2 separate regions of the Homo sapiens genome follow, and region 1 is linked to region 2. Evidence: fine-mapped expression QTL. Tissue or cell type: stomach. Region 2 holds a variant in brackets; the other region holds the start of a gene. All regions are shown on one strand. Distances are from middle to middle.

What was found. PIP is the estimated chance that this variant, and not a neighbour inherited with it, causes the effect.
Region 1: it holds the start of IBA57, and the variant in region 2 is fine-mapped to the expression of IBA57 in stomach (GTEx, PIP 0.99).

What each region holds. Positions count from the first base shown.
Region 1 is chr1:228,162,403-228,170,505 of GRCh38, forward strand. IBA57 (iron-sulfur cluster assembly factor IBA57) reads left to right here and starts at 3,402. Exons shown (of 3, transcript NM_001010867.4): 1 at 3,402-3,755. The coding sequence starts at 3,415. IBA57-DT (IBA57 divergent transcript) reads right to left here and starts at 3,110. Exons shown (of 2, transcript NR_103540.1): 1 at 3,072-3,110; 2 at 1,684-2,090. LOC124904534 (a long non-coding RNA gene) reads left to right here. Exons shown (of 2, transcript XR_007066913.1): 1 at 1-1,051; 2 at 1,748-2,780. RefSeq lists an enhancer at 2,987-3,889 and a silencer at 2,994-4,033.
Region 2 is chr1:228,982,984-228,991,086 of GRCh38, forward strand. No RefSeq gene overlaps it. Among named protein-coding and RNA genes, the nearest start is that of LINC02815, 170 kb to the right of the region's middle. RefSeq lists an enhancer at 6,576-7,326. The variant T/C (reference allele first, on the strand shown) is at 4,655.

The DNA of each region.
Region 1 (8,103 bases), 820 kb before region 2:
GCTGGTGGGCCCAGCCCTGTACACAGCAGGACACACCCAGAGCAGGCGGTGCTGGAGCAGGCTGGCGGGATGGGACTCCATGTCTCACCTCCATCCGTTTCCACAACCTCAGCCAAAACTCTCGGCTGCTCATGGGAGTGCATAGTGGGGTGAGGGGCCAGCTGCTCAGAGACTCCCTCAGAATAGGGCAGTGGCACTCTCCTTCCTCTAGGAAGGGAGGAAGCCCTGAGGCGAGAATAACAGGAAACCACCTTCCCCCAACCCCCCCACAGTACCTGGGAAGCAGGGGCTGCGACCCCTACGCCCAGGCATTTTCCAGTTCTCACTCCCCTGGCCCCTGCTTCAGCCTGGTCCCTGAAGCCAGGACAGGGGCGGGGTTTCCTCCCCCAGGTGCCAGGCCCCAGTCCCCTGCCTGCTGATAAGGAGAACAGCAGCCAGGGTGGCTGGTGTAGAGTCCAGGAAGGCTTCTTGGAGGTGGCCTGGAGTTACGGCCTCACATGGCTCAGGCACTGGAATGTGGCCCCCAGGACTCTGGAGCTGAAAGCTCTGTTTCCTTTGAGTCCATTCGAACTGAAGTGGCCCCTGGTGTTGGTGGTGGCTTCTTTGGGGTGGGGGGGCCTAGGCAGGACAGATTCGGAGCCAGTGGGCCCGGCCCGGGGCACCAGGTTGCCGCACGCCTTTCCTGCTGCCTGTGCAGGGGTGGAAGCAAATTCCTCCTCTGGCTGAGGACCAGGCTGACGTGAGCCCAGAGGAACTCGACCCCCGCCCGTGGGTGTTGTCTGCGCCACTCCCTGCCCCGGGTTTCATCCTGCCTGCCTTCCGCTCTGTCCGCATGGGGCTGCCCGGGGGGTACCGGGTCACCCTCAGGAACGCCAGGCTCTGGCAGAGGAAGGGGTGGCGGCTGCAGCCAGTGGCTAGGGAGCGCATTCTAGGCCTGGCCTATCTCAGTCAGGAAGCTGGCGTCTGGCGGGGGACTGAGGCCCAGGGACCTTGGGGGACCCAGCTGATTTGCTCCAGGCTCCTCACCATGCCCGGAGCCTCGCCTGGTTGGGTAGGCAGGGTCCGGGGCCTCACAGGGCTTGGGGCAGGTGGGGATGCTGTGAGGAGGGTCCAGAAGGGCAAGCGGGAGCTCCAGGGATGAGGAAGCTGCAGTGAAGAGAGTGGGCTAACGGCAGGGCCTCCATGGCCACATCCAGGGCCTGCGGGAATTCGCTGACTGCCCAATGTCACCTGAGCCCCTAAGGCATGCCGGCTGCTGGCCCAGGCCCTCAGGACACGGCAGGGAGCTATGGCAGAGACTTTCTGCTTGGCCAAACTCCGGCTGGGATCTGGAACTTTCTCCTAGGCCCATCTGTGCACTTGCTTGGAAAATCCAGTTTTAGTAAGAGCCCTACTGAGTCAGTTTAGCCAGAACCCCACACCCTGGATATCTCACCCTCGATGACATCCAACCAGGTCCCTCATCCTCCACCATCACCTGGTGACGTCTGATCACCCTGCCTGCCTAGAGCAAGGACCCTGTGAGGTGGGTTTAGCCAGACCCCTCAGCCCTGATGTCTCCTTAGTCATTCCCACCCACAGACCCCACGCTGCTCCTCGGCTTCTCCACCCTCTGCCCTGCTGTGTTGGGGTTGAGCTCCATCTCCCCCAAGGCCGCCAGGCAGGGCCCCACACCACATGATGCGCCTTGGTGCAGTCTTCCTCACTGATGTTACTACGCATCATGAGGAATTTTTTTATTCAACAGATACAAAGACCTCTGCTTGCTGGGACTCTGCACCATAAGGACACATTGAGTAAGTCTTCTTTGGTGCTTTGAGTGGAGGGCAGTGGAGAGGGGAATGTCAACAGGGTGCATGGGCCCCAGGAGGCCAGCAAGGCAGGGATGGCTTGGACCAGGGCAGTCAGACTCTAGGGCTGAAGGCTGCTGGGGCCACCTTGTAGATGTGTCACCTACTACCAGGGAAAGTGGCCACTGTACAGGGCTGCTCAGCAGGGGGTATGGGACATCACTCCTCGAGAAAGCACGGTGGGGTGGATATGTCATAGCAGTGTGTGGTTCCTGCCTAAATTGTCCTCTGTGAGTTCAGCTGTGAAGAGAGGACGAGAGTTATTGGAAGGACGTCCTGTGGTCTGGAAGGACGTCCTGTGGGAGGACAGGCTGGGCTCCAGGGGAGCTTGGAATCCTGCACTGAAGAGGACTATAGACACATGATGGGGGTGACCCTGGCCTGAAAAAAGCAGAAGTTACCAAGGATGTGATTTGAAGCTGTGATTGTGTCTCATCATGTCACACTGATTAGGGGTGCGGAGGGGTTGTGGGCTGGATGGTGCCTGTCCTTATCCGTGGAGACACTTGGGGATGGAGCCTCCTGCCACCTGCAGCTGAAGTCCCAATGGTCCAGCAAATGAAAAAAATGACACAACAGCCACACGTGGACGCTGGCGAACTGGTAGGAAAGAGGAAGCGGCCGGGTGCGGTAGCTCACGCCTGTAATCCCAGCACTTTGGGAGGCCAAAGCCGGTGAATCGCTTGAGCCTAGGAGTTTGAGACCAGCCTGGACAACATGGGGAGACCATTTCTACAAAAAAAATACAAAAATTAGCTGGTGTGGTGGCTAGCGCCTGTAGTTCCAGCTACTCAAGAGGCTGAGGAGGGAGGACTGCCTGAGCTCTGGAGCTTGAGGCCAGCCTGGGCAACATAACCAAGACCCTGTCTTTACAAAAAATAAAAATAAAAATAAAAATAAAAATAAAATGCTGATACATGCTAGACCGTGGATGGACTTTGAGAATACTATGCTGAGTGAAATAAGCCGTCGCAAACGACAAATCCCGTAGGATTCTGCTCCTGTGAGGTCCCTAGAGGAGGCACGCTCATGGAGCCAGAAGGTACAATGGGAGCTCCAGGGCCTCGGGAGTGGGTGTTTAACAGGGAGTTTCAGGTTGGGAGGATGAAGAGGTTCTCGAGATGAGTGACGGTGCCCGACATGGGTGGGTGAAAACGAGGAAGGCCACCGAATGGGACATGGGATGGCGCTTAAGAGGCCGGCAGAAACCTCGTTACCTACCGAGGGTGGAGCCTGCGTGCTGACGGATAGGCCGAGTCCCCGCCCCGAAACACACCCCGCGCACGATGCTCCGCCCCACACGCATGCCCCACCCACCCAGCAGGCACGCTCGCCCCGCCCGCCCCTTCCAGCTCGGGAGGCCCTGCTCCTCACGCACGCACTCTCAGTCGGCCTCAACCGGCGCTGCTCCGCCCCTCAGGCACGCACGTTCCGTTCACCCCTCACGCACGCACTCTGCGCCCGCCCCTTCCCGCCTCCCTCCGGCGGCCACCGCCAGGGGCCGCTGTGGCACCCGCCCCTCCCGCTTCCTTGGGCCCTTCCCGCTGCCCCACTCTTGTCCAAGATGGCGACCGCGGCGCTGCTTCGAGGCGCCACTCCGGGGCGCGGCGGCCCGGTCTGGCGCTGGCGGCTGCGCGCGGCCCCAAGGTGCCGCCTGGCCCACAGCTCCTGCAGTCCTGGTGGCGACCCAACGGCCGGAGCGGCCTGGGCCTGCTTCCGGCTGGACGGGCGCACCCTGCTGCGCGTGCGTGGCCCCGACGCGGCGCCCTTCCTGCTAGGGCTGCTGACCAATGAACTGCCGCTTCCGAGTCCTGCGGCCGCGGGGGCCCCGCCTGCTGCGCGCGCGGGCTACGCCCACTTCCTGAACGTGCAGGGCCGGACGCTCTATGACGTCATCTTGTACGGGTGAGCGCGTGCTGGGAGGGCGCTCGGGGGCGGGCACCCAGGGGAGTGGCCAGGGACCGGCACCCAGGGACAGGGCGGGCGCCCGGGGCCTGCAGAGGGCGTGGGGGGTGGGCACCCGGGGAGGGCCGGGATGGGGTGGAAGCTCAAGGGTGGGTGGGCCAGCGACTGGCACTCAGGGTCAGGCACCCAGGAGATTCCACTTGGGATGGACACCCAGGGGAAGCTCACCCAGGGCCCAGCACCCGGGGGAGGGCACCCAGAGGAGGGCTTGGCTCAACACCCAGGGATGGGTCAGCGACTCATCCAGGGGAGGCCTGGGGGCCAGCCCACCATATCAGAGCAGAGGCGTCTCTAGGTGGGCACCTCCCAAGTGGGCCATCTGGTGACCCTTCTCCCTCCGCAGGGACAAGGGGTTCAGGGGCCCCGCCTGGTGGCAGAGCTGTGTTTCTGAGTGACAGCTTGTGGTGACACTCCCGAGTTCTGTTTACCTTGTGTTTCCCTGTGTCTCCCCATAGCTGGTCACATTGGCATTTGGCTCAGTCATCTGTGCTGACATCACGACTGTCAGTGATGTTCATGCCGGGTCAGGGCCTTGACTGCTTACAGCCTTGGGTTTCCCTTGCCCAGCTTCCAGGGACCTGGATCCCTGAAACCTCCGCCCGGTGGAGTGGATCTGGTTCGCGGCCGCCTGCCTGCTGTCCCTGCTATGGCGGACCCGGTTCTTGTTCTCTTCAGCTTACTCCTGTGTTTTGGTTTCAGGGGATGGACACCTTTTTAATGACTTCCTGAGCTACGTGGGGTGAATTTTTGGACTCATTGTGTCTCTGCTAGTGGCTTTACCTGATATCCTGGCTGGGTGTAAAAATCTAGCTTGGAAATTGTCACCGACAATGTTCACATCACAACTTTGTTTTCTCGCTGCCAGCTTTTCTGAGAAGTCTGGTGCCGTTCTTATTTGTATGTGAACTGTGTTTTTCTCAGAAGCTTTTCTTTATTCTTGATGTCGTGAAATGTCATGCTGATGTGTCTTAGTTTGGGCTTTTTCCATATCACATCTCTGGGCACTTAGTGGGCTCTTTAAATCTAGAACCAGAGTTGGTGAAATACGGCCCTGAGGTCAGACCCAGCCCATTGCCGGTGTTTATAATAAAATTCTCTGGGAACCCCACCCGTTGGATTCCAGGTGGTCTGGGGCTTCTTTTTTTTTTTTTTTTTTGAGACGGAGTTTTGCTCTTGTTGCCCAGGCTGGAGTGCAATGGCACAATCTTGGCTCATTGCAACCTCTGCCTCCAGGGTTCAAGAGATTCTCCCGCCTCAGCCTCCCAAATAGCTGGGACTACAGGTGCCTGCCACCATGCCCGGCTAATTTTTGTATTTTTAGTAGAGACAGGGTTTCACCATATTGGCCAGGCTGTTTTCACACTCCTGACCTCAGGTGATCCACCCGCCTCGGCCTCCCAAAGTGCAGGGATTACAGGTGTGAGCCACTGTGCCCGGCCTGGGGCTGCTTTTGTCTGGAGTGGTAGAGTTGTGGCACGAGTGTGGCCCTCAAGCCTAAGTTATTCACTGGCCCTTTACAGAAAAAGTGTGCCCACCCTAGCTCAATAGGCTTAAATCTTCATGTCCCAGTTCAGAGATATAGTCATCATAGTCTGTCTTATGTATTCATTACATTCTGTCTAGCTGCTTTAATTTCTTCATCTTAAGAACTACATTCTTTGATTCTCTGGAGCCTTCTATGTTAGTACTTTGCTGTTCACATGTTAGCCTTACAATGATGTTGATTTTGGTCCCCAAATTCCCTTCCATATTTCTATAGTCCTCTCTTGTCCTTTTCCCTTTGAGTCCTAGTTCAATTGAATTCCTATTCTTAATAAGTGTTTTGTGGTGTAAAGTACAGCTGACTTTGCACTACATAGGTCACTTATGCGTGGATTTTCCTTCACCTCTGCCACCCTGAGACGGCAAGACCAACCCTTCTTCTCCTTCCTCCTCCTCAGCCTACTCAACATGGAGACCATGAGGATGAAGATGTTTATGTTGATCCATTTCCATTCAGTGAAGTGGAACTACATTTCCTCTTCCTTAGGATTTTCTTCCTGGGATTTGTAGCTTACCGTATTGTAATACAGTATATAATAGCATAAAACATAAAAAATATGTGCCACTTGACTGCGTATGTTATGCATAAGGCTTCCAGTCAACAGGAGTCTGTTAGTAGTTAAGCTTTTGGGGAGTCAAAGCTTAAAGGTGGGTTTTCAACTGTGTGGGGGCCAGTGTCCCTAGCCCTTGCATCATTCAAGGGTCAGCTGTCTGTCCTTTCTGTGTCTCAGGGCTTTTTCCTCTTCATCCTTTCTTGCCTGGTCTGGAGCTTGTCTGCAGACCTACTGGGCCCCAGCTCCCCTTACCAAGCATATGCTTGGTGGCTCCTCTGTGTCTTTCTATTTGCTCTCATTGTGGGGGTCTCTGTCCTCGAGGTCTGCAGGAGGAGTTAATTTTCTTCACTTGTGCTGGGTGTCTGGTGTGTCCGCCACTGTTCTGAGTGCTGAGGGCATTGGAGGCGGCTCTGTTCTTCCCCAGCTCAGCACTGAAGGGTGACGTCATCCAACTCTGGTCTCCCTTCTGAGATGTGACACAACGTCACAGGCCAGGGAGCTCCACTCTGAGGGGTCAGGTGGGGCGGGACCATCCTCCGTGGGATTCAGCATCTGTGTAATAATACTTGAAACCCTCTAGCTTCAGTTCTGTTGGAGTTCATGGCCCTGTTTCTCCTCAGCCGTCAGAAGAGGGACACAACAAGGTTACCTCCTTGAGTGTCTCCCCAGGGGTGGTGGGTGACAGGTGTCCAGATGCCACCCCTCCCAGCTATGTGGCATGGGTGGGCTTAGGGCTGCGCTCGTTGGGCACGTTTAGTTCAGTTCATGAGAGTGTAAACTCTTTTCCTTGTCGGGCTGCTGTTGGCTGTTGACCTCCCTCTCTGTGGTTTGCCCCCTCTGGTCACTCCTCTGGGGAGAGGGCAGCCTGCAGGTCAGGGACCACCTCTCCCTGGAAGCCTCTGTGTGTTCCTGCTTCTCTGGTCATTCCCTGCCCATCATTCCTTTATGGTTTTTTCCTGACTGTAGGATTTTTTATTTCAACTTTGATACTTAATATATCATCCTGAGCCATCGCTTCCTTAAAGCACCCTATTCTTGTTTCCTGAATGTAGCACCTTCTTTCAGATGAAACTATAGTTATTTGGTTGTTGTCTTTTAATAGGAGTTGCTTTTTAGAGCAGTTTTAGGTTCTCAGCAAAAGAGCAGAATGTGCAGAGATTTCCCATATTACCTCACAACTTCCCCCACCAGAGTGCTATTTTCGTCACAACTGATGAACCTCTGTTGACATGCCATCATCACTTGGAGTACAGTTTCCATGAGGGCTCACTCTTGGCTTGGTGTGTTCATGAGTTAGGCAAATGTATGATGACACATGTCTACCATCGTAGCATCACATACAGTAGTGTCACTGCCTTGAAATCCTCTGTGCCCTGCCCATCCATCCATCTCCCCTAACTCCTGGCCACCACTGATGTTTTCAGTGTCTCCATAGTTTCATGCTTTCCAGAATGTCCTGTAGTTGGACTCATGCATCTGTAGCCTCTTCACATTGGCGTTCTTCACTTAGTGATATGCGTTTAGATTCCTCCATGTTTTTTCATAGCTTGACAGCTAATTTCTTTTTTTTTTAGACAGAGTCTTGCTCTGTCCCCCAGGCTGTAGTGCAATGGCGCAATCTCGGCTCACTGCAACCTCTGCCTCCCAGGTTCAAGCGATTCTCCTGCCTCAGCCTCCTGAGTAGCTGGGATTACAGGCATGCACCACCACGCCCAGCTAATTTTTGTATCTTTTTTTAGTAGAGACGGGGTTTCACCATGTTGGTCAGGCTGGTCTCGAACTACTGACCTCATGATCCGCCCGCCTCGGCCTCCCAAAGTGCTGGGATTACAGGCGTGAGCCACGGCGCCCGGCCGACAGCTAATTTCTTTTAGTACTGGTTAGTATTCCATTGGATGGACCACAGTTTATTTGTCCACTCATCTACTGAGGGACATATTGGTTGCTTCCAAGTTTTGGCAATTATGGATAAAGCTGCTGTAAACATCCATGTGCAGATTTTCATATGGGTCTGAGTTTTTTTGTTTTTATTTTTTAGACACAGGGTCTCGCTCCATTGCCCAGGCTGGAGTGCAGTGGCACAGTTGTAGCTCACTGTACCTTCAAACTCCTGGGCTCAAGTGATCCTCCCACCTCAGCCTCCCAAGTAGCCAGGACTACAGGTAGTTGAGGTCTCACTATGTTGCTCGGGC
Region 2 (8,103 bases):
TGAGGAGCACATTAATTTGGAAGTACTTTATCTGCTCAATTGCACCAGCATTCCATAATAATCATGCAGGATTGACTTTATTATTGCTGTTGTTATTAAAGAGGGCCTGAGGAAGAACTCCCGCACAAGCCACCTTGCCTGCCTAAACCATCTGAATAAATCTGCGTCTTGGTGGACGGGGCTTTGGGGTGAGGTCCTGTGAGTGATGAGGCCCTCTCTGCCCTGGGATGGTGAAGTCCCATCTGCCATGGGGTCAGGATCGGGTGGGATCTGAGTGCACCCCGAAGCTGCTCCGTCCCTGGGAAAGGGGCTTTGCTTGCTCTGCCGGGGGAGGGAGCACAGACAGAGCAGCCTCCATGGTAGGGGCCAGGTCCTCACTCCTGGATGGGGGCAAACCAGCTCTTCTCTGGGGGGGCTAGGCAGGGAGGAACAGGCGAGCACCTGGAGAAGGCAGCCAGGTGACACCCCCCAGGATGACCCATCTGCCCCTGGAGTGTACATCATCCTGCCTGTCTCCTGATGGATTTCCTGCCTTCTGGGGCCCACCTCCAACCCCAGGCTGTGTTTCCTTCCTCTGAACTCAGGAAGCACTGAAAGTCTCCAAACCATTCCGCTGGCACTGCTCATACTGAATATTCTTAAATTACAAAAGTAAAAAATAAAAAAAAAGTCTAAGACCTGAATTATCAACCTGACCGTCAGCTCCTTTAGGGCAAGGCAATGACTTTTATATGTCTCTTTATTCAGATGTGTCCCCCCAGCAGAAGACAGCTCCTCACATGCTCTCCTTTTGATTGTTAAATTCATAACTGTGCACAGGGTGGATTGCAGCAGTGAGTTCAAGGCAGAACAACAAACAATAATGGCACGTGTATTCCAGGCAAGAGGGAAGCACAAGGCCGAGCATGGTGCCAGCTTGCCTTTAACAGGTACAGTGCTGCGGGGAGGCAGCTAGTGCTGGGACCCAGTAGGGATAATGGGATAACAAAGGTGCTCCTGCATTGTCAGATGCACAGAGAGACATAGCCATCAGTGGTATGCTTTCTCTCCCACTTATTTACCTCCTTTCTGATTTCCCAAAGCTATTTTTGTTTTATTCCCAAACATGACACTTTTCTCCCTTTCTTATTTAGTTAATGAAAACAGAAACAATAACTTAATTATGTGATAGACAGTAAAGAGAATACTAAAGAAGTAGATATTTGACACAAGCTTTGAAAATTAAGTTGAAAAGAAAGAGTACTGCTGTTAATAATCAGCAGCTGTCAGTGAGAGCTATCACTTGAACAACTATCACAAAATCTCCACTCCTCAAAACAGCCCTGCAGTGTAGACATTATCCCCATTTTAGAGGCGAGGGAGTGCCAGCTCAGGGAAGCTACCCTCACAGGCTGGTAGATGTCCACACTTGAATCAAGGGTGAACCAGACCCCCATATGCCCACAAGCACACACAAGCTGATGTGGACTCTGGGAATGAATGAAATTCATTGTAAAATTAGCATATGCAAAAAATTAGCAGCAAAATGCTGCTGCTGCTGCTGCAAAAAAAAATGCATATAATGTAATATACTTTCAATCCAAACATCTTCTGTTTTAATGATCTGTTTTAGCCATGGTTTCACCTTGGAGGGATCTGCTCCATTCATAAAGCAGAGAATTGGGCTGCTGCAGAAGCAGGGAAGCAGGGTTGAACTGGTGGGAGGCAGTGGTGGGGTGGAGGCCTGGTTCCTTGCGTTAGTACACCTGCCACTCCAGATTCCTTAGGACAAGTAAGCCCAGCCTCTGTAAGGTCCCACCGGCCTCCAAGATCCAGGAGCACTGAGGAGGTGCCAGGGGGCAAAAAGGCATCAAGGGACTCAAGGCAAAGAGAGGCTTGGCAATTGTGACGGGTCAGGGTGGGGCAGGCTCCCCTGGTGGCTACAGGCTCCTCATGCTCCACGGAGGGGCAGGAGGACAAGCTGACTCAGGCCAAATGAAGAGGAAGAAAGGAGGAAATGTGGCCACCTATGGATCCTGCCAAGAGATGTGATGGACTTCTCTTCATGAGCCCAGAGAAACTTGGGTTCCAGCATATGCTCCGGTGAGGACCCAGCACTCAGCATATAGTGCCACTGATGTCAGTCTGGCATCATGCGCCAGGGCCTGCACCAGCTGCTGGGCACACAGTGGTATATGACAGAGTCCCTGCTCTCCTAGAGCATGGGGTCCAGTTGGGGAGACAGACACACAACCAATCATGATTTGCTGTCTGCTAAGATACCGCCATGCACAGGGGGCTACATACAGGTGTTCAGAGAAGGAATCCCAAACCAGAGGATTGGAGGAGAATAGATGCCTCATGAATCTCAAAAGACTGGCAGAGGCTAACCAAGCAAAGAGAGTGGAAAGAGCACTGAGGCATGGGGATGGCAGGTGTGGGCAAAGGTGCAGCACATGTGAGGAGGAGTGTCTCAGTCTGCTCTGGCTGTGTAACAAAGCACTGCAGACTGGGGGGTGGTAAACCATAGAGATGTACCATCTTACAGTTCTAGAGGTTGGAAGTCCAAAATCAAGGTGTTGGCAGGCTTGGTTCCTCCTGAGGCCTCTCTCCTTGGCTTGTAGGGAGACAGCACTCTGCCATCTTGCTGAGTCCTCACATGGTCTTCCCTCTGTGCATGTCCGTGTCCTCATCTCCTCTTCTTATAAGGACACTGGTCATATTAGTCTAGGGCCCACCCTCATTACCTCATTTTAACTGAATTTCCTTAAAGACTCTGTCTCCAAGTACAGTCCAATTATGAGGTATGTGGGGTTAGGACTCCAGCCTATAAATTACTGGGGGACATAATATGGCTCATAAGAGTGGGGAAGTGCAGGAGGCTGGTGCACCCAGCGGGAGCTGAGTCTGGAGGCACAAGTCCCGCCAGACCCAGAGCCTGGAGAGACATGCAGAAGGCTCCCACTTTGCCCTGTGGAGGGCAGGGATCTTGGGGGTCACAGCTTGAGACTCAGCTCTTGCACTTGGCAGCTGTTTGAACTTGGGCATGCTGCTTTACCTTGGAGTCATAGTTCCCCCTTTGGGAAAATCAGGATAAAACTATCTTGTGGGATATGTTGTGAAAATTAAAAGAAAATGTTTCTAAAGCAATGTCACGGGATCTGTCAGGCAGTAGGCATATCGGATGGGAAATGTGATGAGGAGAAGCATGAACATGGTGCGGGAGCTCGGAGGAGGCTTTACCAGGCCCGGCAGCCAGGTGGCCGTTGTGCCCTAGGACAGGCGGCACATGGGCGCGTGGGGAGACCCCAGAGGGCTCTTAGGACTGTCTGTGCATCAGGCAGTGCCATCACAGTGTGATCTGTGGATCACCCGCTTGAGCATCGCCCTATGAAAGCGCAGATCGCAGGCCCAGCTCAGCCATCCTGAGTCCGGATGGAACCTGTGTCTAAACTGCTTCCTAGGAGCTCAGTCTGAGAATCATCCTGGAGACCTGCAAATCTGAGGGGTGGAAAGAGGAAGAGGAACAGAAACAGAGCGAATGCAGATCTTATTGTTCGTGCTTCTTACCCAAGGCCTGGGGTAAGCCTTTTCCCAAAAGAGTGGAATGGGGAGGCCCATCTCACTGCACTGCCCGCTCCTGTGACACTGAGAGCGCAGTGGGCAGAGACCCCCAAGAGTCCTGCAGGGCAGACAGGCAGACGTCTGCTCTGTTACTAAGCCATGCTGTGCACCTCCAGCCAGCAAAGTTGAGCTTTTGCCCAGAGTTGGCAGCTCCCCAAGAATCAGACTTGTGGAGAACATGGTAAACGCTGGTCTGCTTATTTTGGGATTGAGGGATTGTGAGGGATCGTGCTTATGTCTCCTTCCAGAAGTTTAATGAACAAAATATTACCATTAGTCAAGCCTACGTGACCACCAGCTGACCAGGACACCTGCAGTTCTTTAATTAAGCTCTAGAGATGAGACATCCCCTACCCTGTGTCCCCTACGGAGTAGTGACCAGACGAGTTAATTTGCCTTGAGTCGTTAACCTGAGAGGACCATTAGCTCTCTGGGAAATGATTTTAATGTGAACCTACTACCTTTTGCTAAGAAAAGGAAGGCTCTGTCCCTTTCACACCCAGCTCAAGAGGAACAGCCAGTCTTAAGTCAAATGCCCATTTCTCTAGTGTGAAGAGTAAAGATGACAGATGTTCACAGGCAACCTCAGTTAGTTCCTTCCCTTGTCGAAAAATGCTGGACTCTCTCACTCCCCCCCCACCCCCCCCCACACGCATACACACACACAGGCGCAGGCACATGTGCACACACACACACACACGAACACAGACATATCATTCGTGTGCGTGCGCACACACACACTCGTATCTTCCGGAGGCCAGCTTTGACACACATCACCTTCTCATAGTAGATGAATTATTGGGTCTATTGCTGCATTCATATCCTCCCTAATTAAATTCTGCTAGCCTGGAATTGTGATCCTTTGGTTTATCAGGAAGCTACGCTCTGCTGTTATTTGCCCTTATGTTACATACAAAGAGAGTGTTAAAAGCTACTTCATGATATACACATCTGACAGGGGGCCAATTAAACACACTGGACCAGGCTGCCTGTTTTGTGCCATTGATGCTGGCTGCAAATTACAAATGAATTTATGCTTTTCATTTCATGC[T/C]CAGCATGGTGCTTTCTCAGCAATGTTTCATAAGCATAAGGCCAGGTGCTTTTGTGTGAAAGGAACAAAATGAAATTTCTTTAAAAATGCAAATCCTAATCCAGACTGCCCACCCCTACCCTGGCTTATCCTGACTGGTGGGTATTTACTGTCTCCTGTTCCTGGGGGGTGCTACCTGGCTCTGAAGAGGCCTTTCCAGGGCAGTCTTGAGCAGGGTCAGGGAGGGGTGCTGTGGAGGGGCAACCTCCAGCCGTCCCGTGTGGCCAAGAGCTTTCAGAGACAGGGTGCCCCTGCCACCAGACAGTGAGGAGTTGCAAAAGAGGCAGCTATGGGGGTCTCTGTGCAGCACTCAGCGGGAGGATCCCCAACTCTGTGGCCACGCATGACTGTTGGAGGGTGGGACATCAGCTGAGACTTCCTTACTCAAGCAGAACAGAAATATTTTCATAATATGGACTCATTTAAGGTAAAAAATGTGCCAGGCCTTATAAAAATATAAAGATGAATCTAGTTTCTGACCTTCAGCAGAGAGACACACAGATACACCAAACGGGCAGAGGACACAGCAGGAGCTGCAGGCTGCCTGTGCTGGCATTGTGGAGGGACCTCCCCCGCACCCCGGTAAACGCGGAGAGCAGGGTACTCTCTAGGGCAGGAGCCAGCAAGCTTTTCCTGCAAAGAGCCAGGTGGTCTACATTTCAGGCTGTTGCAGGCCTCGGGGTCTTTGTCGCAACAAGTCAACTCTAACGTGATAGAGTTAGAAGGCATCTATAGGATGAGCATGGCTGTGTTCCAATACAATTTTATTTACAAAACAGGTGGTGGGCTGTGGGCGGCCGACTCCTGAGCTAGAGGGTTGGATCATTGCACATGGTTGCAGTCCATTTTCAAGATATTTTAAAGGTAAATTGTTATTTCTAGCTCTCTGTCTCTTCTGATACTATTAATCTACTAGAATAATTTTTTACAATGATTTTTTAATTATGAAAGACATACATGATCACTATATAATTATCAGAAAATAGAGGTAAACAAAAAGAAAACAGTCACATTTCTGAGCTAGTCTTCATCTTGCCTCTTCCTTTTCTCTACTCGCAAACATCCCTCATGGTCCCACCCACATGCAGGGAGGCTCAGCTGGCAGGAGAGGAGGGAGGGCCTGGTGACCTCGGCTGGCCCCTCATGTGCTGCTGGTCCATAGTGAGGGTGGAGCCTCACCAGTGTGGCCACAGGCATGCTCACAGGGAGCTGTCGAGTTTCTGCTGAAGTCCGAAGTGACCCACTTCAACCCGCCATGGTCTCTGTGAACCCTGGGATGGAGTCATTACTCTCCACATGGTTGGAATTCCTACTGGGGTGACTTATGAAAGTGGAACAGGCCCAGCTCCATTCAGTCAACACGTGTTAAGCACTGATGGGTGCCAGGCATTGTTCTAGGCACTGTGGCCAACAAGACAACCTAGAAGCTTTCATTCTTGTAGGGGAGGTTAATTATAAACAAATCAACAACAAAAACTATAAAAATGGTTATCTAAATGTTGGATGGTAATGGTTGCAAATAGTAGAATGGGAAGTATTTGGCAGCACGGATGAGATGGAGTGATGCCCTCCCATTGGGTGGTAAGGGACTCCTCCGAGGAAGGGAGGAGGACAGGCGGGTCTTGAAAACACGGAGGGCAGAGCATTCTAGGCAGACAAAGAGTACATGCAAAAGTCCTTCAGCAGCACCGTGTTCATGCCCTTGAGGACAGACAGCAGTCCCACAGGCTGGATCAAACGGACTCACGGCAAAAATGAAAGAAGTTAGGTAGGAAGTCAGGGCCTTTAGACTGTGGCGAGGAGCTGAGATTTTATTCAAGAGCCATGGGAAGCCAGCCGAGGATTTTAGGCAGGAAAGCTGCATAACCTGACTCCCATTTGTGAAAGCTTGCTCCTGCTGTTTTTGGAGAACAGACTGCAGGGACGAAAGGGAAAATGAGGAGACTCTTTGGCGGCTGCAGGAGGAGGTGCTGATAGCATGGACGCCACTGTTCTGATGTCCCCAGAGATGGGGAGCTGGTAGGCTTTTCTCTCAGCTCTGGTAGGGGGTGGTGCCATTCACTGAAATGGAAAGATGGAGGAGGTTAGGGTGGGCTGGCGCAGAAAACAAGCGTGGGTTATGGACAGGACAAGCCGGAGGTGCCTGTTAGCACCAAGAAGAGTCAGGAGCTCTAGCAAGAGGACTTTTTAACCAGTCTCAACTGAACACCTGCAGTGTGCCAGGCCCAAGCTGGCCCCATCTGCGGTGACTGCCCATGCCCTCTCATCCTCCTGTCCATGTGCAGCCTGACCCTAGCACCACCCGCTGGCCTGGGATTATCAGGCTGAGCCTGCCGCCATGAAGTCCTCCAGCCTCACCTGACCAGCCCCAGGCAGGATGTGGCGCATTCACGGGTAAACAAGTGAGGGAGGGACACTGGAGCACCCCACAGAGCATCTGGGGCCCTGCAAGGCCATCGCAGGCCCAGCTGTCTCTCTGGAAAAATGCCATGGACACTCTTGATCAGTCAGATGTTGGCAGTGACACTGCTGTCTTGCTTCATTGCATTTGCAAAATAAGCAAAGTTTGTAGTGCTCCCTGTCTTCTACGTGTGAGCGGGTGTGTTTCTCATCAACTCACTGCAGTTACAAAACCAATTAGAGCTGTAAAATGTGGAATGGCCTCTGTGTGAACAGCCTGGGACATCCTCAGAGCTCCAGAGCCCACTGCTTTGATGTCAGAGCTGGGGGTGGGGTGGGGTGGAGTGGAAAGGCCATGGGAAGGGAGCCGGCTCTGAAACACGTGGAGGCCAAGGTGGTAAGGTGGTAGTGATGTGGAGGCCTTGCCGATCAGGGGCCCACACACCGCACCCTGGCAGGGGAGGGCCGGGGGCTTTCTGTGCCTCACCCACAGATAAGAAGGAAGTGGGAGCCAGTGCCAGTCCCTCAGCTTCCTCCTTGCAGGCCTTCTCTGCTTGCCCTTTCTCCACATTTGGCCCAGACATTGAAGCTATGAGCCACATGGCAGGAAGTTCACAACTGCTGTGCTGACAGAAGCCAGAAAGGAGGCTGTTTTCTGGAAGCCTGCCCTGTGCAGGCCTGACAAGAGCTGGGGGAAGTTAGGAGGCCCTTGATGGGACCACGGCCATGCATGACACTGGGACCTCTTGCACTAGGAAGACATCCTGTATCATAAAATTCAAGGAACTCCGGAGCTGGCAAGGACTGTGGCAGTCATAACGTTCAATGTCTTCATTTCCTGGGTCTATGACGAAGACCCAGGAAAGTGAGGTGACTTTTCCAGAAGAGTGACAAAGGCAGAACAAGAACCAATTTCCTGACTCTCTATCCCAGAGCCCTTCACCAGTGACGGTGGGGATGCTCGCAAGCCTCCCAGGCCAGGGCTGCCCAGGCTTACTCAGGTCAAGGCC